Homo sapiens: one gene and its partners. The protein of the gene in region 1 purifies or fractionates together with the protein of each later gene. This does not show direct contact. Each region holds a gene or a part of one and is shown in the gene's direction. Other genes may lie near its edges. The genes, in order: ARHGAP11A, FIP1L1, NUDT21, CAPZA2, WDR82, CPSF1 and SF3A1.

The links.
Region 2: the proteins of ARHGAP11A (region 1) and FIP1L1 purify together in Homo sapiens (affinity purification with mass spectrometry, with the first as the bait; one large-scale study listed by BioGRID). This does not show direct contact.
Region 3: the proteins of ARHGAP11A (region 1) and NUDT21 purify together in Homo sapiens (affinity purification with mass spectrometry, with the first as the bait; one large-scale study listed by BioGRID). This does not show direct contact.
Region 4: the proteins of ARHGAP11A (region 1) and CAPZA2 purify together in Homo sapiens (affinity purification with mass spectrometry; 2 studies listed by BioGRID and IntAct, with this or other methods). This does not show direct contact.
Region 5: the proteins of ARHGAP11A (region 1) and WDR82 purify together in Homo sapiens (affinity purification with mass spectrometry; one large-scale study listed by BioGRID and IntAct). This does not show direct contact.
Region 6: the proteins of ARHGAP11A (region 1) and CPSF1 purify together in Homo sapiens (affinity purification with mass spectrometry; one large-scale study listed by BioGRID and IntAct). This does not show direct contact.
Region 7: the proteins of ARHGAP11A (region 1) and SF3A1 purify together in Homo sapiens (affinity purification with mass spectrometry, with the first as the bait; one large-scale study listed by BioGRID). This does not show direct contact.

The regions. Positions count from the first base shown.
Region 1 is NC_000015.10:32,628,194-32,632,654, forward strand, and holds part of ARHGAP11A (rho GTPase-activating protein 11A), read left to right. Parts: intron 1-534; coding exon 535-609; intron 610-1,401; coding exon 1,402-1,569; intron 1,570-4,461. Other genes in the region: ARHGAP11A-SCG5 protein, read left to right, coding at 535-609, 1,402-1,569. UniProt on the Homo sapiens protein: GTPase activator for the Rho-type GTPases by converting them to an inactive GDP-bound state.
Region 2 is NC_000004.12:53,383,728-53,388,188, forward strand, and holds part of FIP1L1 (pre-mRNA 3'-end-processing factor FIP1), read left to right. Parts: intron 1-45; coding exon 46-149; intron 150-4,461.
Region 3 is NC_000016.10:56,437,833-56,441,332, reverse strand, and holds part of NUDT21 (cleavage and polyadenylation specificity factor subunit 5), read left to right. Parts: intron 1-1,586; coding exon 1,587-1,676; intron 1,677-3,500. UniProt on the Homo sapiens protein: Component of the cleavage factor Im (CFIm) complex that functions as an activator of the pre-mRNA 3'-end cleavage and polyadenylation processing required for the maturation of pre-mRNA into functional mRNAs.
Region 4 is NC_000007.14:116,903,535-116,907,995, forward strand, and holds part of CAPZA2 (F-actin-capping protein subunit alpha-2), read left to right. Parts: intron 1-642; coding exon 643-849; intron 850-2,728; coding exon 2,729-2,808; intron 2,809-4,461. UniProt on the Homo sapiens protein: F-actin-capping proteins bind in a Ca(2+)-independent manner to the fast growing ends of actin filaments (barbed end) thereby blocking the exchange of subunits at these ends.
Region 5 is NC_000003.12:52,257,514-52,261,974, reverse strand, and holds part of WDR82 (WD repeat-containing protein 82), read left to right. Parts: intron 1-495; coding exon 496-595; intron 596-1,473; coding exon 1,474-1,590; intron 1,591-2,102; coding exon 2,103-2,258; intron 2,259-2,708; coding exon 2,709-2,778; intron 2,779-3,296; coding exon 3,297-3,439; intron 3,440-4,455; coding exon 4,456-4,461. UniProt on the Homo sapiens protein: Regulatory component of the SET1/COMPASS complex implicated in the tethering of this complex to transcriptional start sites of active genes.
Region 6 is NC_000008.11:144,398,739-144,403,199, reverse strand, and holds part of CPSF1 (cleavage and polyadenylation specificity factor subunit 1), read left to right. Parts: intron 1-209; exon of another isoform or gene 210-333; intron 334-1,085; exon of another isoform or gene 1,086-1,285; intron 1,286-1,526; coding exon 1,527-1,554; intron 1,555-1,636; coding exon 1,637-1,770; intron 1,771-1,908; coding exon 1,909-1,989; intron 1,990-2,124; coding exon 2,125-2,276; intron 2,277-2,382; coding exon 2,383-2,529; intron 2,530-2,706; coding exon 2,707-2,846; intron 2,847-2,854; exon of another isoform or gene 2,855-2,923; coding exon 2,924-3,034; exon of another isoform or gene 3,035-3,114; coding exon 3,115-3,208; intron 3,209-3,331; coding exon 3,332-3,419; intron 3,420-3,489; coding exon 3,490-3,612; intron 3,613-3,696; coding exon 3,697-3,748; intron 3,749-3,826; coding exon 3,827-3,924; intron 3,925-3,997; coding exon 3,998-4,072; intron 4,073-4,161; coding exon 4,162-4,242; intron 4,243-4,331; coding exon 4,332-4,421; intron 4,422-4,461. UniProt on the Homo sapiens protein: Component of the cleavage and polyadenylation specificity factor (CPSF) complex that plays a key role in pre-mRNA 3'-end formation, recognizing the AAUAAA signal sequence and interacting with poly(A) polymerase and other factors to bring about cleavage and poly(A) addition.
Region 7 is NC_000022.11:30,336,075-30,340,535, reverse strand, and holds part of SF3A1 (splicing factor 3A subunit 1), read left to right. Parts: intron 1-154; coding exon 155-340; intron 341-1,284; coding exon 1,285-1,406; intron 1,407-1,501; coding exon 1,502-1,747; intron 1,748-2,638; coding exon 2,639-2,846; intron 2,847-3,355; coding exon 3,356-3,510; intron 3,511-4,461. UniProt on the Homo sapiens protein: Component of the 17S U2 SnRNP complex of the spliceosome, a large ribonucleoprotein complex that removes introns from transcribed pre-mRNAs.

The DNA.
Region 1 (4,461 bases):
TATAGCTTGGCATTAAAGGTCTTTCATAGGATTGCTCTAGCATACCTGTCTACTATTTCCTGTCTTTGAGCAACTTTAGTCAAACTATGTTATTTATTTTCCAGACACTTTTATTCATTTGCTTACACTATTTATTGATATAATGTTTTTACTTCCATCTCTACTGATCTTTTAAATACTTTTATTCGTGCCTCCATTTCCATGGTTCTTGCCTCAGTTCAGACCTTCATCTTTTGCCTTAACATGTAATGATTTCTTTTTCCCTACCCTTACTGTACATTATATGTATTTGTATTACATTTCTTTCTGTATTGTGTCTTTTTTATTTTAGGGATATGGAAGTATAAGTGGGGAATGGAATAAAAATATATCCTTTAGTATTTTTCCTATTTTGAAATAATTCCTCTTAAATAACTTAAAATTTATAAGCCGATGTAAAGTTACATGTTGAAAGAAGACTGCAAATATTAATATGAATTATTGGTGAAAGACAAGTAAATGTGAAGTTGTAATTGCTTATGCCTTGCATTTCAGATTTTGTTAGTGGAGCACTAAATAAATTTAAACCTAACAGAACACCTTCTATTACACCTCAAGAAGAAAGAATTGGTAGGTATTTATTATATGCATTTATTTAAATTAAAATTTGTATAGTATTCTATAAAATACAATTACAATAATAATTACCTAACTTAGTAATCAAATTTAGTTTAATCAAATCAAATATTATTTTTAATAGTCATACTGTACTATACACACTATGTTGTGACATTGCTAATTACATAGGCTATAATGAACCCAAAATTGTAGGCAAAAATTTTTTTAGTCTCCTGTCTTTAATCTTCTTAATCATGCTTTTCTGTTTGTAATTTAGATGCTATTAAGCGTGTGAAAATAGTTCAACCTCATTTTTATCTTAGGACTAGAAGTTCATTATTGTATATTTCAATTTTTTATTCTAATTTGCTTGTGGCTGAAATTATTCAGCCAGTAAGAGTCAACATGATCTTCTGTTTTCTAGAGTGAAGAAATGAACTGGTTAATACTCACTTATGATGAAAAGCAAAAATAATATTTAGATTAGTTTTTGTTTCAACTCCTTGATTGTAATTTCTTCCTTACATTAATATTCTTTAATGTATATCATATGCATCTTTTAGTCTGTTAGATTTAAGTAACTGCTGTCTCTTAAGAGTCTTGCCTCTGCGACTTCCTTATTTTCATTTAAGTAATTGCAGAGTGTTTTAGTTAAACAACATCTACTTAACTGATGATGTAAATATATTCTCATTTTTTGTTTAGCTCTAAGTAATAGCTTTATAAGAAGAAATTATGTAAAGCTTTTATATGTTGTCAACTCTGCAGTAGAAACAAGTTGGTTTTGTTTTGATATTTTTTCAGCCCAGCTATCTGAATCACCAGTGATTCTTACACCAAATGCTAAGCGTACATTGCCAGTAGATTCTTCTCATGGTTTCTCAAGTAAGAAAAGGAAGTCCATCAAGCACAATTTTAACTTTGAGCTGTTGCCAAGTAATCTCTTCAATAGCAGTTCTACACCGGTATCAGGTAGCAAATAGAATTTATATAAATGGATTGTAAAGATTAAAATGAGTGCCTATTCTGGGCACAGTGCAATTTCATATTAATAATACCACCCTTAGGAACTAGAACTTTATTCTGTTTTATCCAACCTATGAATTTTTATAAAACCCCCTGCCTTTTAAAATAGACACTGTTTCAATATAGTGTGTGTGTGTGTGTGTGTGTGTGTGTGTGTGTTATGACAACATCTATTGAAAGTTGTGATAACCCAGAGTAGTAGTTTGGGCTTCTGGTGATAGCATTGATGCTTAGGTTTTATGTGATTAGACATCCTGAATCCTGCTATAGTTACATCTGGGTCTATAGCTGTGGCTTTATTGCTGTCATTTGTTGAATTGAGGTTGCCAGATGTTTGATCATGTCTGATTCCCAAGTGGGAGCGTTACTATTGCAGGTTATGGTTTGAAAATGAGGGTATTTTTAAAGTTTTAGACTCAAGTACCTTTTGTAAAAGCTTTAGAACTTTGTTGACGCTGTTCCTTGTGCCATGGCTTCCAGATCCCTTACCAGCCCAGCCATTTTCTTCCATATTAACTACAAGTTCTAATGTGGCCAACCAGAGCCTTCAGAGAGTAATAGAGTATGATCATGCTAATCCGGAGATTAGTCTGGGTCTTAGATTCAATTGGCTCTTTTAGCATATACAGAATTCAAGTTGGCTCATATTAACCTTACGATCAACCAAAAATGAAATGAAACTCTAAGCCCAGGGTCCTCCATCTCATTTATCTTACATTTAGTCAAAATGTGAGTGATCTCTGATTATTTTAGATTTTTTATTTTGTTGGTTTCAGACAATGTTAAGTTTCATTTTTGATTCATTATCTGAGTTATATGAGTTCCTTCCCAAAGCCTGTCTCTTTTTTCTGTTGTCCAAAAGGGTTCTTATTTGTTTTATTGAGAAGTTGAACAGAATAGCAACTTGAGGTTTTCCAGAAAAAAACACTTCTTCACAGGTTCTCTAGGGCTCATTGAAATGTGATGATAGTAACTCTGAAGCTTATGTCTGTAGCTTTTGCAGTGTTCACAGGTTGGAGACTTAAACTTTTTTAAGTAACATAGTTCAGTTGTTTTTTTTTTTGAATATATCCTTTGCAGTTTGGAGGACTTTTTCCAAATGGCAAATGGGAGTTGTAGTTCTACCTGCCTTTGCTTATTAGCATTACATTTTCCCCAAGGAATGAACATACTGATTCCTTCTTCTCCTCCTCCAAGCTCCCAAAACAGAGGTTAAACAGTCTTGTGCTATTTTTAGTTTGAGCTTGCCTAATCAATGAATTTTTTTATAAAAAAATTTAAAAGTTCAACAATAGTAATCGTATTATTTTTACACCACTTTTCTTTGACCCTACTTTCTCAGCCACAATTCAACAAATTCCATTTGCAAAATTGAAAATAGATTGATTTCTAAGTTTAGATTATAACAAATATGATGCTTTTAAAAATATATAAAGGCAACATTAGTCTGTAGTCCATAGAGTATCTATTCATAATTGTCTCTTTTTTTTTTTTTTGAGACAGAGTTTTGCTCTTGTTGCCCAGGCTAGAGTGCAATGGCACAATCTCGGCTCACTGCAGCCACCACCTCTCAGGTTCAAGCGATTTTCCTGCCTCAGCCTCCCAGGTAGCTGGGATTATAGGTGGCCACCACCACACCTGGCTAATTTTCTTTTGCATTTTTAGTAGAGACGGGGTTTCACCACGTTGGCCAGGCTGGTCTTGAACTCCCGACATTAGCTGATCAACCTGCCTTGGTCTTCCAAAGTGCTGGGATTACAGGTGTGAGCCACCATGCCTGGCCATAATTTTCTTACAGATGTGATAAATTTGCATTGTTCCATATATTCTGACTGTGCCTCCTGCGACCATTGACACATTTTTTATTTTTATTTTTTGAGACGGAGTCTCGCTCTGTCTCCCAGGCTGGAGTACAGTGGCATGATCTTGGCTCACTACAACATCCACCTCCGATGTTCAAGTGATTCTTGTGCCTCAGCCTCCTGAGTAGTTGGGATTACAGGCATGCACCACCACACCCAGCTAATTTTTGTATTTTTAGTAGAGATGGGATTTCACCATGTTGGCCAGGCTGGTTTGAACTCCTGGCCTCAAGCAATCCGCCCACCTCAGCCTCCCAAAATACTGGGATTACAGACGTGAGTCACGGTGCCTGGCCGGACACATTTTTAAAGTGACTAGACTGCAGCCCTAGAATAAAGCTACTTATGTCACTTTAGATGTATAATATTGGCTTCCAAAATTTTCTTTAGCTAAATGCACCCAAAAGTTTCTAAGGTGGTTGTATTTTTTCCGTTTTCATAATTGAAAAAATGTGAATGTCTCTGGGAAACTTTGTGAATTCTTTATTAATAACTCAGATGAATTGAGAGGGTTCATGTTTGTTGAATGTGTCCTGGGCGTGATTCAAACATAAATGTATATGGAGCCTTTGTTCATAACTATTTTACTTCTTTCGTAATTGTTTACTATAGTTGATTTCATAATATAAATGGTGTTAAATAATTGAGCTTCTGTTGTACCAGTAATTATTTGCATGGAACACAGCAGCAGCCAAGGGATTAGGAATGTGTTATAGAATAATTAGTTTTTGTTTACTTGCCAAAAATATTGAACAAATTACATTCCGGAGTCAGGTGGGTAGCAGTTGGCCAGCAGGTATATCTCAAATACTCAGATTCCAACTTGTTTGCCAATAGCTTATTTTTTATAATACCATTAATTGGTATTATGTACTAGATACTGACTAAATATTTTATATAGATAACAGTAATATTCATCATAGAAGTCCGTTTTCAGAGCCTAAAGCCATTTAGTAAGTGATGGAGCAAACTCAAG
Region 2 (4,461 bases), on another chromosome or scaffold:
AATGGATTACTGAATGTATTTTATAATTTGTTTATGTTCATGTAGAAAGTGACTGAGACCGAAGATGATAGTGATAGTGACAGCGATGATGATGAAGATGATGTTCATGTCACTATAGGAGACATTAAAACGGGAGCACCACAGTATGGGTAAGTTATTTTTTAGTAAGTAACAATTGTGTAAATGCTATATAGTAAGGAGAGTGTGCCTATATCAAACTCTCAGTGGTTGAGTCCATTGTTTTTACATTTTTCTATTTTAACATAAAAGAACTTGTTAAAGTTTCATCATGAATATACTTCTTTGCTAAAATACAGTTAATTGATTAGGCGAAGGTACATAGAAGCAGCAGTTTTTGATGCTGAATTTAAAGTGTTTTTATAAAAGAATTGAGTGCTAGGCCAGGCATAGAGGTTCATGCCTGTAATCCCAGGACTTTGGGAGGCCGAGGCGGGTGAATCACCTGAGGTCAGGAGTTCAAGACCAGCCTGACCAGCATGGTGAAACCTTATCTCTACTAAAAATACAATAATTAGCCAGGCATGGTGGTGGGCACCTGTAATCCCAGCTACTCCAGAGACTAAGGCAGGAGAATCACTTGAACCTGGGAGGTGGAGGTTGCGGTGAACCCAGATCGAGCCACTGTACTCCAGCCTGGGTAACAGAGTGAGACTCTGTCTCGAGAAAAAGAAAAAAAAAAAGTACTATAAATTCTTTGATTAGAATTAGAAATCCTTAAATTGTAATTTGTATCTGTACTTATTATTATTTCACTTTATTATCCAGACCTGAGTTTAGGTTTTTAATTTTTTTGCCTAATAAAAACAATATCAAAAGTATTTCTTTTTGTTCTTAATAGTGTTTTCAGGTTTCTAATTCTCCCTTAGGCCTTTTAGGCCAATGTTTGTCTCCAATTTTGTATTCTATAAACTGGACCAAGTAAATGGACTGTCATTGACTCATTGAGCGCATAAAGAATCTTACAGAAAGATTGGAAGGGAAATACATTGAAGTACGAATTGTGATTTAGTTACGATAGGAGAATAAGAGTCAATGTGTTTTGTTTTTCAAATTGGCTGTATAATGTGGTTATTATAGCTTATGCATTGGAAACATAAAATACATTAATTTCACTATAGTTCATTAAGCAACCTCATCTGGAATCAACCAGTATATACAAAAATATTGTTAAATATTTTATTAGTAGAGTCATTTGTTTTCAGAAGTCATTTCAGGAAGCTTAAAGCCAATTCAGTTATTGTCATAGTCAGTTTTGTATTATAATAATGACTACCCATGTAATTTTAAAATCCTAGCACCTTTTTAGGGAACAGAGTAAAGAGGCTGATTTTTCATGTTAGGGGTGGATATTCTAAATGTGCTCCTCATTCTCATTTGGGAAAGTAAATAATTACTTAATGAGAAAGTTGGGCTTATACTGTAGTACTAGTAGGCCTTTACTATCTGCATGATGCAAAAGGAACACATAAAATTGTAATAATTGCATGTTCATTAAATGTTATGTAAAATTATTTGTATTTGCAAGTTATAGAACAACTTGAAGCAAATGACAATTTTTTTGGATTATGGATGGGACCTTTTTTTGGTAGAAATTGCACTCAAATATTAAATATACGTGGACTTCCATAGTACCTTACTAAACTTTATTTCTTATAGCAATTTTCAGTTTTATGCATTGTAATTATGTTTATACATATTTATTACCTTTACACACTTCAGATTTCTATAGAGTAGAAACCATTGAATTCAAAACTCTTCAAAAAAACAAGAAACTGTGATTTATGGAGTTTTCTATTCCTCACATTGCCTTAAATACAGTTAAGTGTGCAGTAAATGGTTATTGACTAAATAAACTGAATGTTATTTAGTTACAGTTGTCTCTGAGGGTTTTTCCCCTTAGACATTTGATTATGAAAATTTTCAAATGCTCACAAAAGTTGAAGGAATTGACATGTGAATGCTCATTTACCCATCACCTAGATTATACAATCTACATTTTGCTTTGTTTGCTTGAACTCATATCCCTCTATGCGTTTACCCATTTATCAGTTGATTTATTTTTTATTCATTTTATGCATTTCGAAAGTAAAGTACAGGCATTTGTGAAGAGTGTAAAGTTGTTTAACCTCTATATTTCAAGGTATATCCCTTGAAAACAAAGTCAGTGAGAAAATGAAATTTGATAAACATTTACTTATGCACAGCGTTTTCAGAAGCAAATTTAAAGAACAAACTGTGTCCAAGGACTGAATTGATTTATTGTAAATTGTTAGGAAATACAAAATAGCATTTTTTTTTTTTTTTTGCGTAACATACCTTTGTTACAAGTTCATTTTATATGTAAGTAAGGTATGAAGAAAAGCAACTCTTAAAGTAGAAATAATTTATCTTGGAAAGTAGTTTGTTACCTATCTCTGTGAGATTGATCCATTTATGTACTCAATAAATAATTTTTAAAGACATAATTTATCTGGCACTGTGTTAAGTAGCAAAGATAATGTGCCTTTATCAAACCATCTGTGATCATTCCATTATTATTATTGTTTTTACATTTACCATGCTACAAAAGAACCCTTGGTAAAATCACCATGAAATTTCATGGAGTTAACAAATTAGATAAAGTTACATGAAAGCAGCAATTTTTTATCTGTGAATGTATTAATTGATGAGAATACAGGAAGTTATTATTTTCCAGAGGTAGTGAGGATGCCAGACATGTGAGTAAATATTTTCAGTGCAACATAAGTGCTAGAATAGAAACATGTACAAAGTGATTCGAAAGGTTTGAGAGGAGAGTTGCTAAAAGCCTACAGGTGTTGAAGAGAAGATCCCAGAGGTAACATTTGAACTTGTTTGAATAATTTTTGAGATGGGAGACAGTGGTTTTTAGGTGGAGGACACTGCCTAACAATAAATATATTAGATGCGTGCCTTGGAGGAAGTACATGGCTGGAGGATAAGGTAGATGAAAAGAGATGGTTGAAATCACTTATGGAAGGAGTTAGGATGCTTTTGCTATGTCTTTGTAGACCTTGCAAGCTTGTCCAATGCACCTTATTTTGTTGCTGTTGTTGTTCTGTTTTGCTTTGTTTTAGTCTTTTAGCTGCCCAAAGCCATGGTTTTTAGTTTCTGTCTCCAGTGATAAGTGGAAAAGAGGGGTGATAAAGGGGCTTTACTGGCCTAACCAGAAACAGAAACTAAGGACTCATGACTGTATTCTCTCCCTTAGACACCCCTAATTAGGTTTTTAGACAGGTCATATCATTTGAAAAGATAACTCTAGCATCAGTAGTTGAGATGGGTTAGATAGAGAGACATTGACTAATAGATGTGAAGTAGTTGTCCAGGTGAGATGATAATCTAGACTAAGGCAGCAGTAGTAGAGAGATGAATGGGAAAATAGTACATTTGAGTATTAGAGAAACAGAAATATAGTCAGGCATGTGGTATACACCTGTAGTCCCATGGACTTGGGAGGCTGAGGTAGGAGGATTGCTTGAGCCTTGGAGTTTCAGGCCAGCCTGGGCAATATAGTAAGATCCTGTCTCAAAGAATAAATAGAAACAAATAACATGGGTAACTGGTTGGTTGTGGATGGAGGAGGAGATAAAGGGCTCAGTGACTTAAAGATTTCTAGAGCAGTTAATTGGGTACAGGTGGGTGCTACTGCTCCCACCTCCCACAAAACAGATTCATTTGACATGTTTATTTTGGAGTTCCTATAGAAAGTCCAAGTATAGGATCTAGCATTTAGAGTGGTCTGAGACTTCATAGGGATCTATTGGACATTATATCAAATTTGCCTCTGCAATTTTTCATACCACTAAGCTTCTCTACACAGGCTTCTCTACAAAGGCTTGTGGCTTAAAAAAGAAAAATGATGTTTTAAAAGGCAGAATGGGGAATAGAAAGTAGCTAGGTGGAAAGCGAAGAAGCTCATTTATTGAACACTTGTGGCTAAGCCTTTTATAAAAATACTGTTTTATTCTATACGGTCCTGTAAGAGAACAGTTTAGAGAAAATCCTTGATTTTTGTACATTTGTAGAAAAATCATGTACATCATATGTAGATACCGCTAAGTCACTTTTTCTGAATTTGGATTGTTAAAATGTAAACATCGTGAAGGCAGGAACCGTAATTGTCCAGCTCCTCATACTTTTTCCTCAGCCTAGAACCATACTTGACATGGTTTGGTGCTCAGTAAGCATTACATGAATTAATCAGCCTATGAAATGATTATTTCAAGTTGGTGACGATAGTACTGCTTGACAGTAGTAATATTTGGTCCACTTTGTAATTTTTGCATTTCTAGCTGTGGAGCTACAGTTATTTGATACAATTAAACATTTTATTGAATTTACATTTTTCTTTTTTAAGTAGAAAAGAAAAGTGACAGTGCAAATGTAACTAAACCTAAGTCTTAAATGTAGTACATCAGA
Region 3 (3,500 bases), on another chromosome or scaffold:
CCTGGGTGGTGGAGGTTGCAGTGAGCCAAGATTGCGGCACTGCACTCCAGCCTGGGCAACAGAGCGAGACTCTGTCTCAAAAAAATAAAATAAAATAAAATGAAAATCAAGAAACTGTCATAAAAGAATATTTTGGCTGGGCATGGTGGCTCACACCTGTAATCCCAGTGCTTTGTGGGGCTGAGGCCGGAAGATTGCTTGAGGCCAGGAGTTGTAGTGAGCCATGATTGCGTCGCTGTGCTCCAGCCTGAGTGACAGAGCAAGACCCTATCTCTTAAAAAATGTAGTTTTGAGGCCCGGTGCAGTGGCTCATGCCTGTAAGCCCAGCACTTTGGGAGAGTGAGGTGGGCAGATCATCTGAGGTCAGGAGTTCGAGACCAGCCTGACCAACAGGGTGAAACCCCATCTCTACTAAAAAGACAAAAAATTAGCTGGGCATGGTAGCATGTGCCTGTAATCCCACCTACTCCGGAGGCTGAGACAGGAGAATCACTTGAACCTGGGAGGTGGAGGTTGCAGTGAGCCGATATTGCGCCATTGCACTCCAGCCTGGGCAATGAGCAAAACTCCGTCTCAAAAAAAAATTTTTTTTTTGAAAAATATGACTTTACATTGAAGAAACGTGATAAACAGTACCTCAGCCCATTAGTGATAAGCCATATTGATATAGCATGTACCTTTGATATGACGTGATGAGAATGGCCCTTTTACCTCTGTAGTTTTCTTCCCAAAAGCTCATAACTTCAATTTAATTGAGGGATGTTTTACAAAATACTTGACCAGTATTCCTCAAAGCTATCAAGATCATCAAACACAAGGAAGGTATGAAAAGCTGTCACAATGTAGAGGAACCTCGGAAGAAATGAAGATTAAGTGTAATATGGTATCTTAGATGGGATCCTGGGACTGAAAAATGAAAAAGGACATTAGGTTAAAGACTATGGATATCTGAATAATATATGGACTTCAGTTAATAATCTTGTCTTGGTATTGGTTGATTAGTTTGACAAATGTGCTTTACTAGTGTGAGATGTTAACAGTCGGGGAAACTGTGTGGGGTATATGAGAAGTCTCTGAACAAGTTTTGCAAGTTTTCTGTAAATCTAAAACTATCCTAAAATAAACCGTTTATTTAAGACCAAGAAGAATGCTTTTAAAAATAGAAGAAAACATGAGGGGAAAAACAACCAAGAGTTGAAAGTTACAGCCAGTGGGAATGGGTGAAGCAGGACAGAGAACTGCAGTTTCTCACCATGAACATTGTAGAACTATTTTTGGCCACTTAAAATATGTAGAGTATGACTTTGGTTAAAATAAGTTTAGTGTTCTGCTATACAAATTAATAAAAATGAAAGCTGAATTTTGAACACAATTTTTATGTTGATACTAGCTTGCCAGTTTTGAACTAATATTGTATGTCTTGGGCAGAGTGACATCTATATTAACAAATCATAGAAAATCTGTATGGAAGGCATATTATCCCTATGTTTCAATTAGGAGCACTGCTAAGAATTTTCTGTTCACTGAAGAAGGGGATTTGTGAGTACATATATTTAGTTGTTTACTGGCTTATTTCTTTTTGACAGATACTGGGTCGTCAGGATGGAGTTTTGCAAGACTGGGTCATTGACGATTGCATTGGTAACTGGTGGAGACCAAATTTTGAACCTCCTCAGGTCAGTGTTCAGTTACATTTGCTGGGCATTTTGGAAGCAGAAAGCTCGTTTAATTCTAGCCACTTTAAAAAAGATTAAAGTAGAATTTGACTTGAAATTTTCTTTTCTTCCCTCCTTAATTTAAATTACAAAATTAAGCCAAGCACTTCTTATTTTAAAGGAAAATGTAAAACAAATACAAGGCCGGGCGAGGTGGCTCATGCCTGTAATCCCAGCACTTCAGGAGGCCGAGGCGGGTGGATCACCTGTTGAGGTCAGGAGTTTGAGACCAGCCTGGCCAACATGGTGAAAGCTCGTCTCTACTAAAAAATGTAAAAATCAGCTGGGTTTGATGGTACAAGCCTGTAATCCCAGCTACTCCGGAGGCTGAGGCAGGAGAATTGCTTGAACCTGGGAGGCAGAAGTTGCAGTGAACCGAGATTGTGCCATTGCACTCCAGCCTGGACAACAGTGAGACTCCTTCTCAAAAAATAAATAAATAAATAGAACAAATACAAAAGAAGAGAGAATGGTAAAAGTGAATGAATTGCGCTACCCGTCGTCTGCCTTTAACAGTTAGCACATCACAACCCCTCATTCCACCGCTTCATTCTCCTACCCTCATCTTGGATTATTTTGAAGTGTATCCTAGCTATTCATTTCAATTGTAAATATTTCAGTGTGAATCATAAAAATAAGGATCTCTTTAAAAAGATAACTATAGTACTGTTATTATCATACTAAAAATAAACAATTCCATATTATTGTCAAATATATAGTCACTGTTCGCGTATCCTGATTATTTCTATTTTCTTTTTATAATTTGTTTGGATTAGGATAGTCTCTAAAGTCTCTTTTACACACTTGGCACCTTTTTTTTTTCCTTGTGTTTTATTTGTTAATGAAAACAGGCTAATGTTTCCATTTCGATTGCATTCCCCTGTTGTTGTTGAATATGTAGCTGTTTCCCCTGTGTGTCTTGCAAATTGATAGTTAGATCTAGAAATTGTATTCAGGCTCAGTTAATTTGGGGAGGGGTAACAAGGCTTGTCATAGGCGGTATATAATCTATACCTGCATAACAAATTACCTCAAAATTTAGCAGCCTTTAGGCCTCTGGGAGTTGCTTAGGGTGGTTCTGGCTTAGGCTCTGTCATGAAGTTACAGTCAAGTTGTCAGCTGGGACTGCATCATAAGGTGGAACTGGGGTTAAAGTATCTGATCCCGAGCTTACACGTGTGTGTGTTAGCAAACTTCTTAGTTTCATCTGGGCTGTTAGACTAAAGCTTTGCTTCAGGTGTTGCTGGCTGTTGTCTCAAGGTCTCCCTCAGTTCCTTGCCATGAGAACATCTCTAAAAGGACAACTCTCAGGCAGCTGGCTTACCCAAGGCTGTGTGATCCAAGAGATAGTGAGAGACAGAGTGCTAGAGGAGTGCCCAAGTAGGAAGCCTCAGTCTGTGATAACCTAATCTTGGCAGTGGCATACCATCACTTCTGCTGTGTGCTATTGGTCACACAAGCCAACCCTGGTACGCTATAGGAGGGACTACACAAAGCAGTGAATACCAGGAGACAGGAATCATTGGGGGTCATCTTAAGGCAGTCTATCACAATTGGTATAGTGTACTTCCATCAGGAATTTAAAAATATTTGGTTGTTTCTTGTTGTAATGTTAGCAGCTCATTGATGATCATTTCCTGGTCTATGAATTCATAAGGGTTGTGATCCTCATATAAAAAGAAACTTATGTATTACTGAAGTGTGTGGTTTGTGTAGAAAAAAAAAATATGCTGCTATTCCTTTACTTAACATTTTTCAGAAGAATGACTTAATTCCTTAGCATCC
Region 4 (4,461 bases), on another chromosome or scaffold:
ACAAGAGAAGGAAAAGGGGAAATTTTTTAAATAAAGCACAAAATATCAGATTATACATTATGCATTGTGGATGTATTATTTAAATTTATGGAAATGAAGTATGTTTTTAAATACTTGGAAGTCAATTAAAATCAGTTGTCAATGTAGTTTTTAAGAAGCAAGAAACAGATACGTCAAAGTAGGTAAGACTGTGGGCCCAGAGGCAAGGTGGGGGACACACCAAAGAGGATTTGCACCAGACCAAAGCCATTCAGGTAACCACCCTGATTGGAGGTTCTCACAAGTTCTGTAGTTTTGAGGAACTGGAGTCTGATACCAGACATTGTAAACTGTTAGAGTTCTCAAAGCAGAAAACCCACCAAACCCACTTGAACAGTGTTTTTAGAGGTTGCATTTTTTTTCACCAGTAGCTGGAAGTTATATTGGGAGAAAATCTGATCTGCACTGGATGAGAGTAATGTCATTGTCTGTATAGTCAACTCATTTGAAGTATTAATAGTTGTACCATATGGTTAAAATATATGCTTGGAGTAGGATTGTTTTATAGTTTTAAGGAAGAAGCTTAAATGAGTGTAATTATGATGTATCAATATTGAAATGCTGTTTTTTTATTTTTTTTCTAAATTCATTCCATCATCAAAGGTATTGATAACAGAACATGGCGACTTGGGAAATGGAAAGTTTTTGGATCCAAAGAACAGAATCTGTTTTAAATTTGATCACTTAAGGAAGGAGGCAACTGATCCAAGACCCTGTGAAGTAGAAAATGCAGTTGAATCATGGAGAACTTCAGTAGAAACTGCTCTGAGAGCTTACGTAAAAGAACATTACCCGAATGGAGTCTGCACTGTAAGTCATCAGTAGCAGCTTTGTGTGTGTGTTTTGTGTAAATGTGAGTCTTTAGCGTCTCTTAAAATTTACAGTAACTTACAGAATTGACATTGTATAATTTGTCATTTTTTTCCTTAAATATTTCTAAGAATGTTTACTATTTTTTCAAGAAATTCTGGATAATAAATAGATATACTAGGATGGCTTAAAATAGAGAAATGGTTGTACCTTGATTTAAATCCATGTAGAAATTCTAATACATTGATTAAAGGAGCAGGATATGGTGAGATTCTGTAATCTTATGTTCATGACTCGTCTCAGTTTAGATCAAAGTTATTTTTATTAAGTCACAGAAATCTTAGAACAAATAAAATTACTTGGAAGTAAAATTATGTGTTTCTGTATTTTACAGTTACATTTCTTGTGTTTTTTGTGTGGTTCTTTCGTAGGTTCAACCTATTTTTATATTTTCAAGAAATATATGGCTGGGCACAGTGGCTCACGCCTGTAATCCCAGCACTTTGGGAGGCCGAGGCAGGTGGATCACCTGAGATCAGGAGTTCGAGACCTGCCTGGCCAGCATGGTGAAACCCTGTCTCTACTTAAAAAAAAAAAAAAAAAAAACAATTAGCCGGGCGTGGTAGCACGTGCCTGTAGTCCCAGCTACTCGGGAGGCTGAGGCAGAATTGCTTGAACCCAGGAGGCAGAGGTTGCAGTGAGCCGAGATTGCGCCACTCCACTCCAGCCCAGTCAACAGAGTGAGACTCTGTCTCAAAAAAAAAAAAAAGAAAAGAAAAAAAAGAAATACAAAATATGGTAGTAGGAATACATTTCTTTTTTAAAAATTTCATAATATTATTTGTACCCTGACAGGCTTTTTTAGCACCCCCAGTTTGTGCTTCAGTGGCCTTTTCCATTGCCAGAGTGATCTTTTGAAATGCAAATCAGGTCATTAAAATTCCCTGCTTGAAATCCTTCAGAGATTTCCCGTTGCCTGGACTTAAGAGTCCAGGCTTTTGAAGGTGGCTTAAAGGCCCTGTGACCACGTGGCCTCTGCTTACCCCTCCAACCTAACTCTACCATATATCCTAGTTTATACCTGCTTTCTCAATGTAATTATTAATATCACCAGTAGCGTACCCCATTTCTTTCTTGGAAGTTTCCTGGTTAGGACAAAAATTCATATGGTCTGCTTAAGTATCTAGCTCTCTGATTATTTGAGAAATATTGCAACATAACCTCAAATATCTTATGTATTACTTGAATTATAACTTGTTCATCAGGATTATTTTGGAGGAATAACGAGAGTTAAGGGAGTACTTGTTAGAGAGTCCTCATTTATTCTAGAGGATTGAAAGGCACAAATTAATTATTATTTTTAAAGCAGTAGGCAAGAGGTGAAATAGCATTGTGATACATCACAGGCATTCTCTTAACGACCTTTCTCACTTATAAGTAAGTTAATTTATTCCAGTACTTTTAAGTGACTAAAGAAACAGCAGCCCCTAAGATTGTGAAGTGAACAAAGGTGATAATCACAAGCTAGGTCCAGTTTTCACTTGCATGGAAAAAGCTAGATTAGCATCTGTATGTTTAAAATAAATTATCTACTTATGAAAGTAGATTATCTAGAATGTTCGTGAATATTTCAGAGTACAATTAATTTTAATGAATTGTATTTTATTTAGTGTCCCCTTTTGTGGTCCACTAATAATTTGATTACGCATAAATATTTGAGAACATGTTTTTCTAGCTACTATATTGGAATGATGGCCTACTTTGTATTTTATGTGTTCTTGTCAAAGTACTGTACAATTTGCAGTATTTTATAGATTTTTAAAGTTGGACATTCCATGGCCCTAAATTCATTCTTATGCTTATTTTCTTTGCCAATAAGGTGTATGGCAAAAAAATAGATGGACAGCAAACCATTATTGCATGCATAGAAAGCCATCAGTTCCAAGCAAAAAATTTTTGGTAAGTTAAAATTTTGGATATTGGGGAGTTTTGGCATTGTTTTAAGTCTTTGTAGTTCTTGCTTTAGTGATTTGGGCTACACCTTGTTTGTTTATGATTAAGAACAATTTAGAGATGGTATAAAATTTTAGCCTTTTGATATAAGGAAGGTAAATTTGCTCAACAGCCTAATCACTAAAGGTAGTGGTAAATCTGTTGACATTCAGTGGAAAGAGTATGGGACTAGCAAACAGCATCCTGAGGGAGCATGTGTGCCTGCGAGAACACCAGTTGGCAATCCATATGCTCATTCTGTGAAGGGGCTGTTCCTGAATGAAACTTATGTGCAGGAGAACAAAGATAATTATAGAACAAAAAATGATACTACTTTTGTGAACTTTGTGACTCTGAAGTAGAGGATTGCTTTGTACTTGGTTAGCCAATGTGAGGAAATAATGACATGTTTTATACAATGAGGAAGATTACATTCATGCCTTGTAATTTTGTGTACAAATAATTCCATTATTCCTTATAAACTTCAAGCCCTCAGGAGCACTGATTTACCATACTGGTCTTGGACCTTTGACAAGTTGTTGGTCATTTTTATTCTTAGACAAGACTATTTCTGAGTACCTGTTACAAAATTCTGAGGTTCTTTAAGACTTTACAAGTCCATAATTGAATGAAATCTTTACGTTTATCCCTGTTTTACATGCTGAGGTCACCAGAATAAGTATGGTCATAATATTTACCTTTTAGTATATTAGCCTTTGACTTACTAGCCAAGTTGGTTGGTGGTGCTATTAAGGGTAAAGTAACAGGTAACCCCTGTGGGCCAGTTGGGTTCATGGCCCAAGGTTGCTCCACTGCTTAGCCATCTCAGAAATAAATGCAGGGTTGCAAGGTTAACCAAGAATATTTGGAGGAATGCAGATCCATCATCACTGAAGGAAAATCAATGCCATATGTGAATGTATGCCTTAATGACTAGCCACAGTTCCCTAAAGGTTCTGTCATATAGAGTTACTTTTATGGACTTAATATAAGTGTAGTTTCTCTGTGTTGGGTCTAAAATCTTGTAGCATTAATCTAGAATCCTGAAACAATATTTATAAAATTATTACTAATTTATGTTATTTATGCCAGGAAACACATAATAAAATCAATCTTGTTGAGATGGAGCTACTATTAGAAGAAAATTCTTTTTACTACGTTCTTCTTTATAATACATTGGAGCTGTTACAATAAGCTTACTAATTTGTCTTTTTAAAATCTAATTCCTTTGAGCTTTAACATATATAAAATGAAGAAAATGTCTGTCCTTGAGTTTTATTTTCTGTTTAGAGACAGAGTCTTGCTGTGTTGCCCAGGCCGGTCTCAAATTCCAGGGCTCAAGTGATCCTCCTGCCTCCGGTTCCCAAGTAGCTGGAACTACAGGTTCACATGGTGCCCAACTTGTCATTGAATTTTCTATTCTCACTATTTCACTTTACAAGGGTAATTTTTCCTAAGCCATCACTATGAGCATTGTATCACTTAACTTAATGGCTTTCACTTTCTGGAAAAAAATGTATTTTATATGCTTTGATATGATTTTTCCATAGTGATAATATCATGGCACAATAGTCTCAGTAAAATCTAAGTAGTTAATACAAAGAACTATACTTCAAGCCA
Region 5 (4,461 bases), on another chromosome or scaffold:
AATAGTGCAGATCTGAACATATGTGTACATTTTTGTGTGGACATATATTTTCAGTTATCTTGGGTAAATACCTAGGAGTGGAGTTTCTGGGTCACGTGGTAACTTTTTTTGGAAAAACTTTTCCAAAGCAACTGTACCATTTTTACATTTCCATTAGCAATGTATGAGGGTTCCAATTTCTCTGCATCCTCACCAACACTTGTTATCTCTCTTATTATAGCTATGCTAGAGGGTGTGGAGTAGTATTTCATTGTGGTTTTGATTTGCATTGGAATCATATATTTTTATTTTGTAGCTTTAAATTTTTTTTTTTATACTAGTTGCCTTTGTTTGTTCCAGATATGGTTGTGGTATGTGTGTTTTATTGTGTTTCTTAAAATGGCAATTTTGGGAGAACAGGTATATATATGTATAGATAGGCAGAGTGGTTTAGAATTCACATCCAATTTTTGCTAATATTTCGCATCAACTCCTATTTATCTCGATGTATTGCAGGGTGGTGGCCTTGTCCATGTCACCTGTGGATGACACTTTCATTTCTGGGTCTCTTGATAAGACCATTCGACTCTGGGATCTCCGGTCTCCTAACTGCCAGGTAATGGTACCTCACAGTTATACTTTTTGAGCATTTTCTTTGGTAGGCACTGTAATGAACTCTACCTCTCAAAGAAGGGAGAAAACAGTGGTTCCATTCTGGGATCACAGGGTCTTTTTAAACTTTGGAGAAAATCTGTTTTTTTAGTTGGTAGCTGCTAAGCACATACCCTAATCTAGTGCAGATTGCATTGTACTCTGTGGCTTAATTGTTGTGGGTTTTTTGTTGTTTTGTTTTGTTTTTGTTTTTGTTTTGAGACAGGGTTTCGCTCTTGTTGCCCAGGCTGGAGTGCAATGGTGCAATCTCAGCTCACCGCAACCTCCACCTCCAGGGTTCAAGCGATTCTTCTGCCTCAGCCTCCCAAGTAGCTGGGATTACAGTCATGCACCACCATGTCTGGCTAATTTTGTATTTTTAGTAGAGACGGGGTTTCTCCATGTTGGTCAGGCTAGTCTCCTGACCTCAGGTGATCCTCCTACCTTGGCCTCCCAAAGTTCTGGGATTATAGGCGTGAGCCACTGCGCCCAGCTGGCTTAATGTTTTTAAAAGTGTTCCTAGAGCTTTTAGCTTCAAGGGATTTATTTTTATTTGAATTCTGTGTCTGTAATATTGTGCAGTTAGAGTTGATCAGAAATTGTTGTCTGGAGACCTGTTTTTTAAAAGCTTCATTTTAGTTTTATGTTTTTTTTGTGTGTGTTCTGTAGGTAGGCTGATATTTGTTTGTATGCCTTTCTTAGTTTTAATTGGGAAAAGTAAATTATATAGTGGTAAGGTCCTGGATTCATTTTTTTTTCCCCATTGTACCAGCAGTCTTTGGTTATTCCACGTATGGTTGTGGCATGTGTGTTTTAGTGTATTTCTTATTTCTTTTCTCTTAGGGCCTCATGCATCTGCAGGGGAAGCCAGTTTGTTCTTTTGATCCAGAAGGGTTAATTTTCGCTGCAGGTGTCAACTCTGAAATGGTCAAGCTTTATGACCTTCGTTCTTTTGATAAGGTAAATCTTTGAATCTTTGAGATCTTTGAGCTGTTTTTTGTTTTGTTTTGTTTTTGAGACAGAGTTTTGCTCTTATTGCCCAGGCTGGAGTGCAGTGGTGTAATCTCAGCTCACTGCAACCTCTGCCTCCCAGGTTCAAGTGATTCTCCTGCCTCAGCCTCCCAAGTAGCTGGGATTACACGTGTCCGCCACCACGCCTGGCTAATTTTTTGTATTTAGTAGAGATGGGTTTCACCATGTTGGTCAGGCTGGTCTCAAACTCCTCACCTCTGGTGATCCACCCACCTCGGCCTCCCAAAGTGCTGGGATTACAGGCGTGAGCCACCGCGCCCGGCCCTGTAAGAGCCTTTTCTACAAAAGGAAAAATGTGGTAGATATTAGAGAGTGGCAGAGAAGTAGCTCATTCTCTGCTTTCCTTAGTCAAAAAGTAATCTAAAGGAATAGGATGGGAATTGGCTCTAGCAGAAGAAATTATTAATATGCCTGGGGCTACTGTTTTTTATCTTTTGCAGGGGCCATTTGCTACCTTTAAGATGCAGTATGATCGAACTTGTGAGTGGACAGGACTTAAATTCAGCAATGATGGCAAGCTCATCCTCATTTCCACCAACGGCAGCTTCATTCGTCTGATTGATGCATTCAAAGGAGTGGTGATGCACACATTTGGGGTGAGCTGACAGCCTTCAAGCATGGCTGTTTCCATGCTCATACTTCCTATGCTAAGAATTATGTTAGCTGGTTGGTGGAGACCAACAGTTACTCTTGACTTACTCATGAAGGCATGCACTTGTATTTTCTTCCTGCTCATGAACTTACCTCTCTTGGATTTCGTAGATGTTCATTTCTCACCAAGTGACCCAAGTTTGGTATTTAGATATAAAATAATTTCCTAACAATAAAGTTTTCTTGCCCCCTTGAGTATGCCTTGAATACAGAGTTGAGGGTGGGAGTGGATTGTCAACGATGGCAACCACATTTGGAAGCTTGGTGGTGTAGTACATGACAAGGAAAGGGTTTCATGGAAAGGAAGGTGATGCATGTGCTGAGTCAGTGTTTGTAGGCAGCTGTTTTTATTAATGGCTCTGTAAGAACAAAAGAACTGCTCTGTTTTGTTTTAGGGTTATGCCAACAGCAAAGCTGTCACACTGGAGGCTTCATTTACTCCAGACTCTCAGTTTATTATGATTGGTGAGTTTCCTTTTATCCCCTGTGGGGGTTATTTCTCTGGTACTATGCATTTCTTTGTTTAAATTATTAACTGAGACATTATTATCTATTTGATAGATGTTCTTAGATTTCTGTATAGCACATTATGCCAAGGACATAGTGTCTTTTAACTGCCCTGACTGGACCAAAATTTGAGTTAAACTCCACAAGCACTACCTTATTAGTAATGCTAATGTCCTGGTGTAACCCTACATTCAGTCATCTTAGTGGCTGCCTGTTGGTAGGGTAATGGTATTCGGCCCCTTTTTTAGATGAGAAAACTGAAGTTAGAACGGAAGTGACATGCCTGTGAACAAATAGCTAGGGTCAAGATAAATTTCCAAAGTGTCCTTCCTTCACTGCCTCTCCTCCCTCTCAATTTTGCCTGAGGGATGGGTCCTAAAGCTTGGCGTATCCTCAGATCTCAATCCATGTCTCATTTCCAGTTGTCTTTGTATTGCGCCTTGAGCTGTTACATTTTCCGTGAATATCCTCTTTAGGTTCAGAGGATGGCAAGATCCATGTCTGGAATGGAGAGAGCGGTATAAAAGTAGCTGTGTTGGATGGTAAACACACAGGCCCGATTACCTGTTTGCAATTCAACCCCAAGTTCATGACTTTTGCCAGTGCGTGTTCCAACATGGTATGTGAACAGTAAGAGGTATCTGCTACTCAGGGACCCTTCCCAGTTGGGGTGGTGGGTGCCTCAACAAGCACAGCAAGCTGTGTTCTACATAGGTACATTACAAGCATCCAAGTACATGTTTCTCAACTGGTGGTTTCCCTATTTCATCTCCTATTATTTGATCTCTGGCTGGGCTGGTCTTGCCTTTCATTTTTATTCTTCCTAGAGGTGATCAGGAATCATCTTTGAGTTCCAAGGAGATCATAGGCCAGTTTTTGCTCTGGACCCTAATTTTAGGTCCAAACTACCTGGGCTATGCTTGGCAATTTTTTTGCTCCTTAAAATACTCTGAACCGGCCTTTTGTGGTTTCAGTTTTCCATTCCTGTTGGTTTACGCCAAATTCCCAGAAATTTCTACAGTTGGTCATAACTCACCACTTAGAATTAACTCCAGGCCCTTATCTCTTCCTAGATAATACTAACAGAACAAAGGATCAGTGAGTCTCAGCTCCAGTTTTCCCTTGTGATCTCCTAAACCTGCCTGGGTATTCGGGGATGAGACATTTCATTACTAGCCTACCCGGAGCACATTGCCACCTTGCTTTTTTTTTTTAACCAAGAAAAAAATGTTAGAAAAAATACAGCAAAACCATCCAGTTCCTTACTTTTTACAGCCCAGGAAGGTGGGGGCCTGTTGGAGGTAACCTGGTGGATTAGCAATGAGGACAGGTTACTTATTCACCCACCTCCCAGGCAGCACTCCTTTTTTTCCCTTCCTTTAAAAAAAAGGGGGCGGGGGGTCTGCTTTGGTGGAAGGTGGACAGTGATTATTGGAGAAAAACAGAACCATTTTACTTTCACATAGAGGAAAGAGTGTTTCTGTCTCCTTAGAGCATCGGGGTTGGTTGGTTAGGAGAGAGGGCTACCAGAGCCACTGGGGTTGGGCACATTTTTGCTGTGGGGTGGGATGTGAAGAACCGTTGGCAGTGAGGAGATGCTTGGCTTTTTAAAGTTGATTTATGTTCTCCTTCTAGGCCTTT
Region 6 (4,461 bases), on another chromosome or scaffold:
GCTTGAACCTGGAAGGCAGAGGTTGCAGTGAGCCAAAATCACACCATTGCACTCCAGCCTGGGCAACAAAGTGAGACTCCATCTCAAAAAAAAAAAAAAAATTTTCCTCCTATTTTTGCTTTACTAGGAGTTTTTATCACGAATGCCTTTATCAGATGCTTTTTTTGTATCCACTAAAATGACATGATTTTTCTCCTTAATTTTGACAGCATGGTAAGTTTAGCGATGGCTGTTCTTGCGGAAATCTAGTTTTGCGTTCCTGGAATAACTCAACCCAGTTGTGTTACAATACCCCTGCTTGTCACTGGGCTCATCTGCAGGCGTTTTGAGGAGGTTGGTGTCACTTCCTGTCCCACCTGTCTGTGGGCTGTTGGGGTGGCCTGAGCCACCTGCGGTGCCGTCAGCCCCACATGAGTGGGTGTGTGTTTTTTTTTTAAGTGTGTCATTACTTCTGAAACCTTTGGTAGAATTTGCGGGTGAAGCCCTGGAGTTGCCCTTGTCGCTGTGAGATGGGTATTGGTTTGTGGATGCTTCTTCTGTATCTCTTAACCAGCTTCCAAGATGCCCTCCCCATAGCACAAGTCCATCGTGAAAAATGACCTTGAGGTGGCTCACGCCTGTAATCCCAGCACTTTGGGAGGCTAAGGTGGGCGGATCACCTGAGGTCAGGAGTTCGAGACCAGCCTGGCCAACATGGTGAAACCCTGTCTCTACTAAAAATACAAAAATTAGCCGGACATGGTGGCACGCACCTGTAATCCCAGCTACTTGGGAGGCTGAGGCAGAATCACTTGAACCCGGGAGGCAGAGGTTGCAGTGAGCCAAGATCACGCCACTGCACTTCAGCCTGGGTGACAGAGTGAGACTCCGTCTCAAAAACAAAAAACAAAAAACAAAAAAAAACAAAACAAAAACCACTTTTCCCTTGCCTTGAGGCAATGGCATATAAATCTGCTAGCTAGTTAAACTAGCTACCTAGTAGCAAAGAACACACAGCCTCTTATCATTCTGGGAGGGCAGTGAAAAGGGAGGAGATAGAGAGGCAGCCTGGGGGAGCCCGAGGCGTCAGGATAGCGCAGGGCTTCCTCTTCTCTAACAGGCACGCAGATCAGTAGCTACAGATACCCCTTGGCTCTGGCTTCCTGCCCTGTGACATTTGGACCCAGGGGCCGGGGCTGGGCTGCTGTAGGTGTGCAACCAGGCAGGTTTGGGGGTGTGCAGACACAGAGTGCACTCTAACCCTGAGTGCTTGCCGCACAGGGCCTGGCTGCTAGGGAGCCGTGAGGTAGGGGCTTCCTGGGGAGGGGCCTGTGCCAGGGCTGGGCCGTGGGCATGAGAGCGTGAATGGGGGTCGCTGTGGGGGGCTGTGCACAGCTGTCTCCAGAAGCCCTTCTCCCTGCTGCAGAGAGGGTTTGGGCAGAGCTCCCAGGAGGCAGGGGCCAGGCTTGGTGGTCTTTTCTCGTTCCCCGGATGAGGTGAGCTGCCAGATGTGGCCCCTCACTGCCCTGTCTTTCTCTCCCCTCCAGGCTCTGACCAAGAATGACAGGAGCACAGGTGAGTGTGGTGGGGCGGCCTGGGGCTGTGCGGGTGCCAGGCATGGCTGGGCCCTGACCCTGAGCCCTGGTGTCTCCCCTAGAGGGGAAGGCCCACCGGGAGAAGCTCGAGCTTGCTGCCTCCTTCTCCTTCTTTGGCAACGTCATGTCCATGGCCAGCGTGCAGCTGGCAGGAGCCAAGCGGGATGCCCTGCTCCTAAGCTTCAAGGATGCCAAGGTGAGTGGTAGGCTTGGTGGGGTAGGCCTGGCCAAGGCGTGGGAGTGGGTGCCAGGGCCTGGGTACAGCCGTTGGTTGCCGGGGGCGACACTGTCAGGACCGGCAGTCGGCAGCCACGGCTGTGCCCTCTGACCGCAGCTGTCTGTGGTGGAGTACGACCCGGGCACCCATGACCTGAAGACCCTGTCACTGCACTACTTTGAGGAGCCTGAGCTTCGGGTAGGGCCGCGCTCCCGCCCCCGCCCAGGCCCCGCCCAGCCACCCTCCCTCCCCCTGCAGCTGGGTTCTGTGGCCCCAAGTGTTTCCCTCGGGGTCTCCTATGCTGGGCCTGGCTGATGCCCCCTCTGCCCCCAGGACGGGTTTGTGCAGAATGTACACACGCCGCGAGTGCGGGTGGACCCCGACGGGCGCTGTGCAGCCATGCTTGTCTACGGCACGCGGCTGGTGGTCCTGCCCTTCCGCAGGGAGAGCCTGGCTGAGGAGCACGAGGGGCTCGTGGGTGAGGGGTGAGTGCCAGCTGAGGCAGGCTGTGGTGCTGGGGTGGGAGGCGCCAGAGCCCGAGCTCCCCTCCCCGCCTCCCCTCCTCTCCTGCTGAAGCCCCTGGCCCCCCAGGCAGAGGTCCAGCTTCCTGCCCAGCTACATCATCGACGTGCGGGCCCTAGACGAGAAGCTGCTCAACATCATCGACCTGCAGTTCCTGCATGGCTACTACGAGCCTACCCTCCTCATCCTGTTTGAGCCCAACCAGACCTGGCCTGGGTGAGCCCCCTAAGGAGGCCCCTCTGCACTGTGGGCCCCCTAGCTGCCTCTGCCTGGGGTGGGGCCCATGGGGTTTAGGGCGGGGCCTATGGGGTGTGGTGGGGCTTGCTCGGGAGGAGCTGGGCCTGGGTCTCTGCGGGGAGGCAAGGCCCTTGGCTGACCCACTGGCGTCCCCAGGCGCGTGGCCGTGCGGCAGGACACGTGCTCCATTGTGGCCATCTCACTGAACATCACGCAGAAGGTGCACCCCGTCATCTGGTCCCTCACCAGCCTGCCCTTTGACTGCACCCAGGCTCTGGCTGTGCCCAAGCCCATAGGTGTGTGTCCTGGGAGTGGATAGGGGAGTGTGTGGAGAGAGCACTGAGCCTGCCCACCAGCCTGTGTCCACCTCCAGGTGGGGTGGTGGTGTTTGCCGTCAACTCGCTGTTGTACCTGAACCAGAGCGTCCCCCCGTATGGCGTGGCTCTCAACAGCCTCACCACAGGAACCACGGCTTTCCCGCTTCGTGAGTGTGGGGTGGCTGGGGCGGGGGGGGCCCGGGGACGGCTTGGGCCTGCCTAGTCGGCCTGACCACCCACCCCACAGGCACCCAGGAGGGTGTGCGGATCACCCTGGACTGCGCCCAGGCCACCTTCATCTCCTACGACAAGATGGTCATCTCCCTCAAGGGCGGCGAGATGTGAGCCCCTCCCCCGCCCATGAACTCTGCCCACACCGCCCCCCACAAGTCCTGTAGGGTCCCCTGGCCCCCTTCACTCCCCCAGGGTCCCCATCCCCGACTCAGAATTCTCCCTGCCCCCAGCTACGTGCTGACCCTCATCACCGACGGCATGCGCAGTGTCCGAGCGTTCCACTTTGACAAGGCGGCCGCCAGCGTCCTCACCACCAGCGTGAGTTGGGACTAGGGGTTGGGTCTGGGTCCAGACCCGGCCCAGCCATCACACACCTGCCCTCCCTCAGATGGTCACCATGGAGCCCGGGTACCTGTTCCTGGGTTCTCGCCTGGGCAATTCCCTCCTCCTCAAGTACACGGAGAAGCTGCAGGAGCCCCCGGCCAGTGCTGTCCGTGAGGCTGCCGACAAGGTGGGTTTCCTGGGCCCATTGGGCCACCACCCTTCATGTGGGCACTGCTGTGGCATGCCACTCAGTGCCCCTCCTGCCTCACAGGAAGAGCCTCCCTCAAAGAAGAAGCGAGTGGATGCGACGGCCGGCTGGTCAGGTGAGGGCCGGTCCAGGGCTGGTCAGGAGCGGGGCCAGGTGACCCAGGGCTGCGCTCAAGTGGGCTCTCTGTGTGCAGCTGCGGGTAAGTCGGTGCCGCAGGATGAGGTGGACGAGATTGAAGTGTACGGCAGCGAGGCCCAGTCGGGAACACAGCTGGCCACCTACTCCTTTGAGGTGAGATTGAGGCAGCAGGGCCCCCGTCCCAGCCAGCGCCCCCAGCGGGCCCCTGACTCTTGCTGTGCCGCAGGTGTGTGACAGCATCCTGAACATTGGACCCTGTGCCAATGCCGCCGTGGGCGAGCCTGCCTTCCTCTCTGAAGAGGTGCCCAGGGTTGGGGTCGGGGCTGGGGGCAGGGGCTGGAGTGTGAGGGGGGGTGGGGGGCATAGTCCTCACCCCCGAGTCCTGTGCAGTTTCAGAACAGCCCCGAGCCGGACCTGGAGATTGTGGTTTGCTCCGGCCACGGGAAGAACGGGGCTTTGTCGGTGCTGCAGGTGTGTGGGCAGGTAGGGGGCGGGCGCCTCCTGGTGGGACCTGGGTGGGCTCACACCCCCATCACACCCCCACCCCATCATCATTCTAGAAGAGCATCCGGCCCCAGGTGGTGACAACCTTTGAGCTTCCCGGCTGCTATGACATGTGGACAGTCATCGCCCCGGTGCGTAAGGAGGAGGTAGGTGCGAGCCTGCTGCAGGGAGGCCCTGGGATGGGAC
Region 7 (4,461 bases), on another chromosome or scaffold:
AGTCATCTCTGGTGCCCTAGTGCCTTTCACAGTGCCAGGTACAAGAGTGGCACTGAATAGATGCCTTGATGAATGATGCACGCATGAAATACCACCCTCTTAACTCAGGTGGCTGCCCACCAGTGTTCTTACTGAAACATCTGTTTCCTTTTAGCCTCCAAGCCCTTGCCTCCAGCCCCTGCTCCAGATGAGTATCTTGTGTCCCCCATTACTGGGGAGAAGATCCCCGCCAGCAAAATGCAGGAACACATGCGCATTGGACTTCTTGACCCTCGCTGGCTGGAGCAGCGGGATCGCTCCATCCGTGAGAAGCAGAGCGATGATGAGGTGTACGCACCAGGTGAGGTGGGGGTTCCAGGAGAGCCCATGGTAGTCTCCGAATTACAGCCATCTTCTTCTAAGCAAACATAGAAAGCAACAATTGAGGTCAACAAAAGCTTTTGAGGAGAGTTGCACTCTATGATATTGCAAGAGAACTCCCCACTTTCCAGAAGAACTCCCCATAGAAATTCCCCAAAGGCAGACACTGAAGGAGATGCCATGTGCCTGTTGACATCCCAGAGCAAGCTCTGGCTTTAGCTGGAAGGGCTTCCTGTGGCTGTTTAGAAGGAGAGCATTGATGGCTGGAGTACCATGAGCTCTTTGGAATGGGGCAGGAACTGTGCCACAGGTGGGAGACTGGGCTTCTAGTTTTGACTCTGCCACTTACACCATGTGGCCCTTTCCACACAGTTGCCCTCTCTAACTCACCATCTTATTTATTTATGTGTTTTATTTATGAATGACGGAGTTTCACTCTGTCTCCCAGGCTGGAGTGCAGTGGCTCCATGTTGGCTACTGCAACTTCCGCCTCTCACGTTCAAGCAGTTCTTCTGCCTCAGCCTCCCAAGTAGCTGGGATTACAGGCACGCACCACCACACCCGGCTAATTTTTGTATTTTCAGTAGAGACGGGGTTTCGCTATGTTGGCCATGCTGGTCTCGAACTCCTGACCTCAGATGTGATCCTCCTGCCTTGGCCCCCCAAAGTGCTGGGATTACAAGCATGAGCCACTGTGCCTGGCCTACCGTTCTTTTCTAAGTCAGAGGGGTTGCCCAAGCACTGGGTTTATAGGCTTAGATCGGGCAGCTTTCCCCGAGCCCAGAGGACAAGAGTTGGGGCCCTGAGTCACCCTCATCCCATGGAACCAGCCTCCTCCCTGCACACCAGAAAAGCTGCTCTCTTGTCAGGACACCTGGTTTATTTTCTCTTTCTATCCTCTGCCTCTGTTTTGTGACTGTACAGGTCTGGATATTGAGAGCAGCTTGAAGCAGTTGGCTGAGCGGCGTACTGACATCTTCGGTGTAGAGGAAACAGCCATTGGTAAGAAGATCGGTGAGGAGGAGATCCAGAAGCCAGAGGAAAAGGTGCGGCTAAAGTGGAACCTAGTGCCTTCTCTGCCCCCCGTCTTCCATACTTGGTCTTAGTTCCAGAAGCATTGTGGCTTTGCTTTCACTTGCAGGTGACCTGGGATGGCCACTCAGGCAGCATGGCCCGGACCCAGCAGGCTGCCCAGGCCAACATCACCCTCCAGGAGCAGATTGAGGCCATTCACAAGGCCAAAGGCCTGGTGCCAGAGGATGACACTAAAGAGAAGATTGGCCCCAGCAAGCCCAATGAAATCCCTCAACAGCCACCGCCACCATCTTCAGCCACCAACATCCCCAGCTCGGCTCCACCCATCACTTCAGTGCCCCGACCACCCACAGTAAGCCAGCATCTACCCTGGAACTGACTTTTTTAGAGCTTCATTCTTGAGGTCGGACACTGTTGGCTGAGAAGTGCAGCTGCCTTTTAGTGGGGCCTGAGTGTTGGGTGGGTCAGTTTGAAAGAGAAAGAGCCCTTTAAATGCAAGTGGGAACCTCTCTCTTGATCTGTTTGTGGAGGAGGGTTGGAACAGGGAGGGAGGTAAGTGGCAAATATGAGAAACCAGTTGGCGTCAGAGAAGGGCTGCAGGGCTTATTGGGTCTTTGAGGACTGTTGGCTTGTCTCCAGGAGAGACTTAGTCGAGGTCTCGGCCTCTTTTTTTTTTTTTTTTGAGATGAAGTTTTGCTCTTGTCGCCCAGGCTGGAGTGCAATGGCATGATCTTGGCTCACCGCAACCTCCGCCTCCCGAGTTCAAGTGATTCTCGTGCCTCAGCCTCCCAAGTAGCTGGGATTACAGGGATGCGCCACCATGCCCAGCTAATTTTGTATTTTTAGTAGAGATGAGGTTTCTCCGTGTTGGTCAGGCTGGTCTCGAACTCCCGACCTCCGGTGATCTGCCTGCCTTAGCTTCCCAAAGTGCTGAGATTACAGGCATGAGCCACTGTGCCTGGCCAAGGTCTCAGCCTCTTTAGTGACTCTTTCAGTGTTTGCCAAAGTAGCAGGTCGAGTTTGACCCGCCAAGTCCCAAGTAGAGAGAGTGTCATCCTCGGGCTCTCAGCAGCTCAGTTCCTATTGGACGCCCAGTGTAGGCCACAGTTTCTCAGTCCCAGGGGGCCAGGACGTAGTTGTCTAACCTCCATCCTCAGAGCTGCAGGCAGCCAGTTGCCAACTGTGTGTGACCTTGGAGTCCAACTTTGGCTTCCTGTAATCTGTGGGTCTCTTTCCTGCACAGATGCCACCTCCAGTTCGTACTACAGTTGTCTCCGCAGTACCCGTCATGCCCCGGCCCCCAATGGCATCTGTGGTCCGGCTGCCCCCAGGCTCAGTGATCGCCCCCATGCCGCCCATCATCCACGCGCCCAGAATCAACGTGGTGCCCATGCCTCCCTCGGCCCCTCCTATTATGGCCCCCCGCCCACCCCCCATGATTGTGCCAACAGGTCAGTATCTCTTGCATCATTTTCCAGGCCATTAGTTCAGGGACCACGGGCCAAGTACTGTCAGCAGAGCAGTGGCTGATGCTAGTGCCAGCTGTTCCAGCAGGGTATCCAGCCCAGAGGAGAGCCCTGGCTTCCCATTGAAAGATCCGCAACCCTAGAGCTGGGAGCCACCGTTCCTGGTAGAAATGAGAGGCTGAAATGGTGTAGCCAGTGTCTGTGCATTCAGGGATCAGGTCCCCAACAGGCTCAGAGGCCTGAGAAATGCTTGTTGCTTGGCACTAGCTCCATCCATCAGTCCTGCCCCTCCTGCAGTCCTCTGCTGTCCAATCTGGGCAGCCTCCCAGGTCCCCTTGCCAGGGAACCTGCTGGCTGCCAGACTTAGCAGGGAACAGCACTTGACACCTCTGACTAGAGGAAACCTTTGCAACCTTCCCTCTCAACTTCTCATCAGCCCTGAGTCCTGGGCCCCTTCTGCCCTCTCATGGGGCTGCTTATTCTTGTCTTTGCAGCCTTTGTGCCTGCTCCACCTGTGGCACCTGTCCCAGCTCCAGCCCCAATGCCCCCTGTGCATCCCCCACCTCCCATGGAAGATGAGCCCACCTCCAAAAAACTGAAGACAGAGGACAGCCTCATGCCAGAGGAGGAGTTCCTGCGCAGAAACAAGGTATGTAATCCCAGAATGCTGCTGAAGTTTCTAGCTGGAGGGTTCAGTCCCGCCCCTGTCGTACACTTGCGAAACTGACCCTATTTCACTCCCAGTCTTGGCTTCTGGGGCCTAGGTCAGCTGTTGGAGGCATCTAAGGGCTTCTGAGCACACAGTGAATGTGGGGCCAACAATTGGAGGAGCAGAGAGCATTGGTGGTGATGGTGATGGTAGTGGTGGCAGAGGTGGTGACTGTGGTGGTCCCTCTGGTGTAGACTTACAGAGGCCAACAGGGAGACCCAGCAGCACGGGCAGCACAACTCACGTGTGAGAGGGACCCTAGACACCTGGAGGAAATTGTGTGTGGTGTTTTAAAATTTACTGTGGCCTTCCTCCCCAGCTCTAGCCCTTAGGAGGTCTGCCTGTTGGGTGGGATCCTGTTGGGGTCCTGGAATAAGGGGAGGTGGGGACCTTGTCACTGCTAATCACTAGGGAAGCTGTCAGGCTGCAGTAAGGAGACAGAAACAGCCCCGGCCTCTGCTCCCCCAATGTATTTGACCAAATTGTTTCGTTTTGTTTTTGCAACCTCTGCCTCCCGGGTTCAAGTGATTGTTATGCCTCAACCTCCGGAGTAGCTGGGATTACAGGTGTGCACCACACACCCAGCTAATTTTTGTATTTTTAGTATTTTAGTAGAGATGGGGTTTCGCCACGTTGGCCAGGCTTGTCTTGAACTCCTGGCCGTAAGTGATCCACCACGCTGGCCTCCCAAAGTGCTGGGATTACAGGTGTGAGCCACTGCACCCGCTCTGTTTGTTTTTTAATAATAGTTCCCATTTCTTAAACGCTTAAGTACCAGGATAGAGCTAAGCACTTTACAGACACTTCCCCTCAATACTCAAAACAGTCATGAACCCTGTCTGGTGGATAATGACATTGAGGCTCAGACAAACCTTGTTAGCTGGGAAGCTG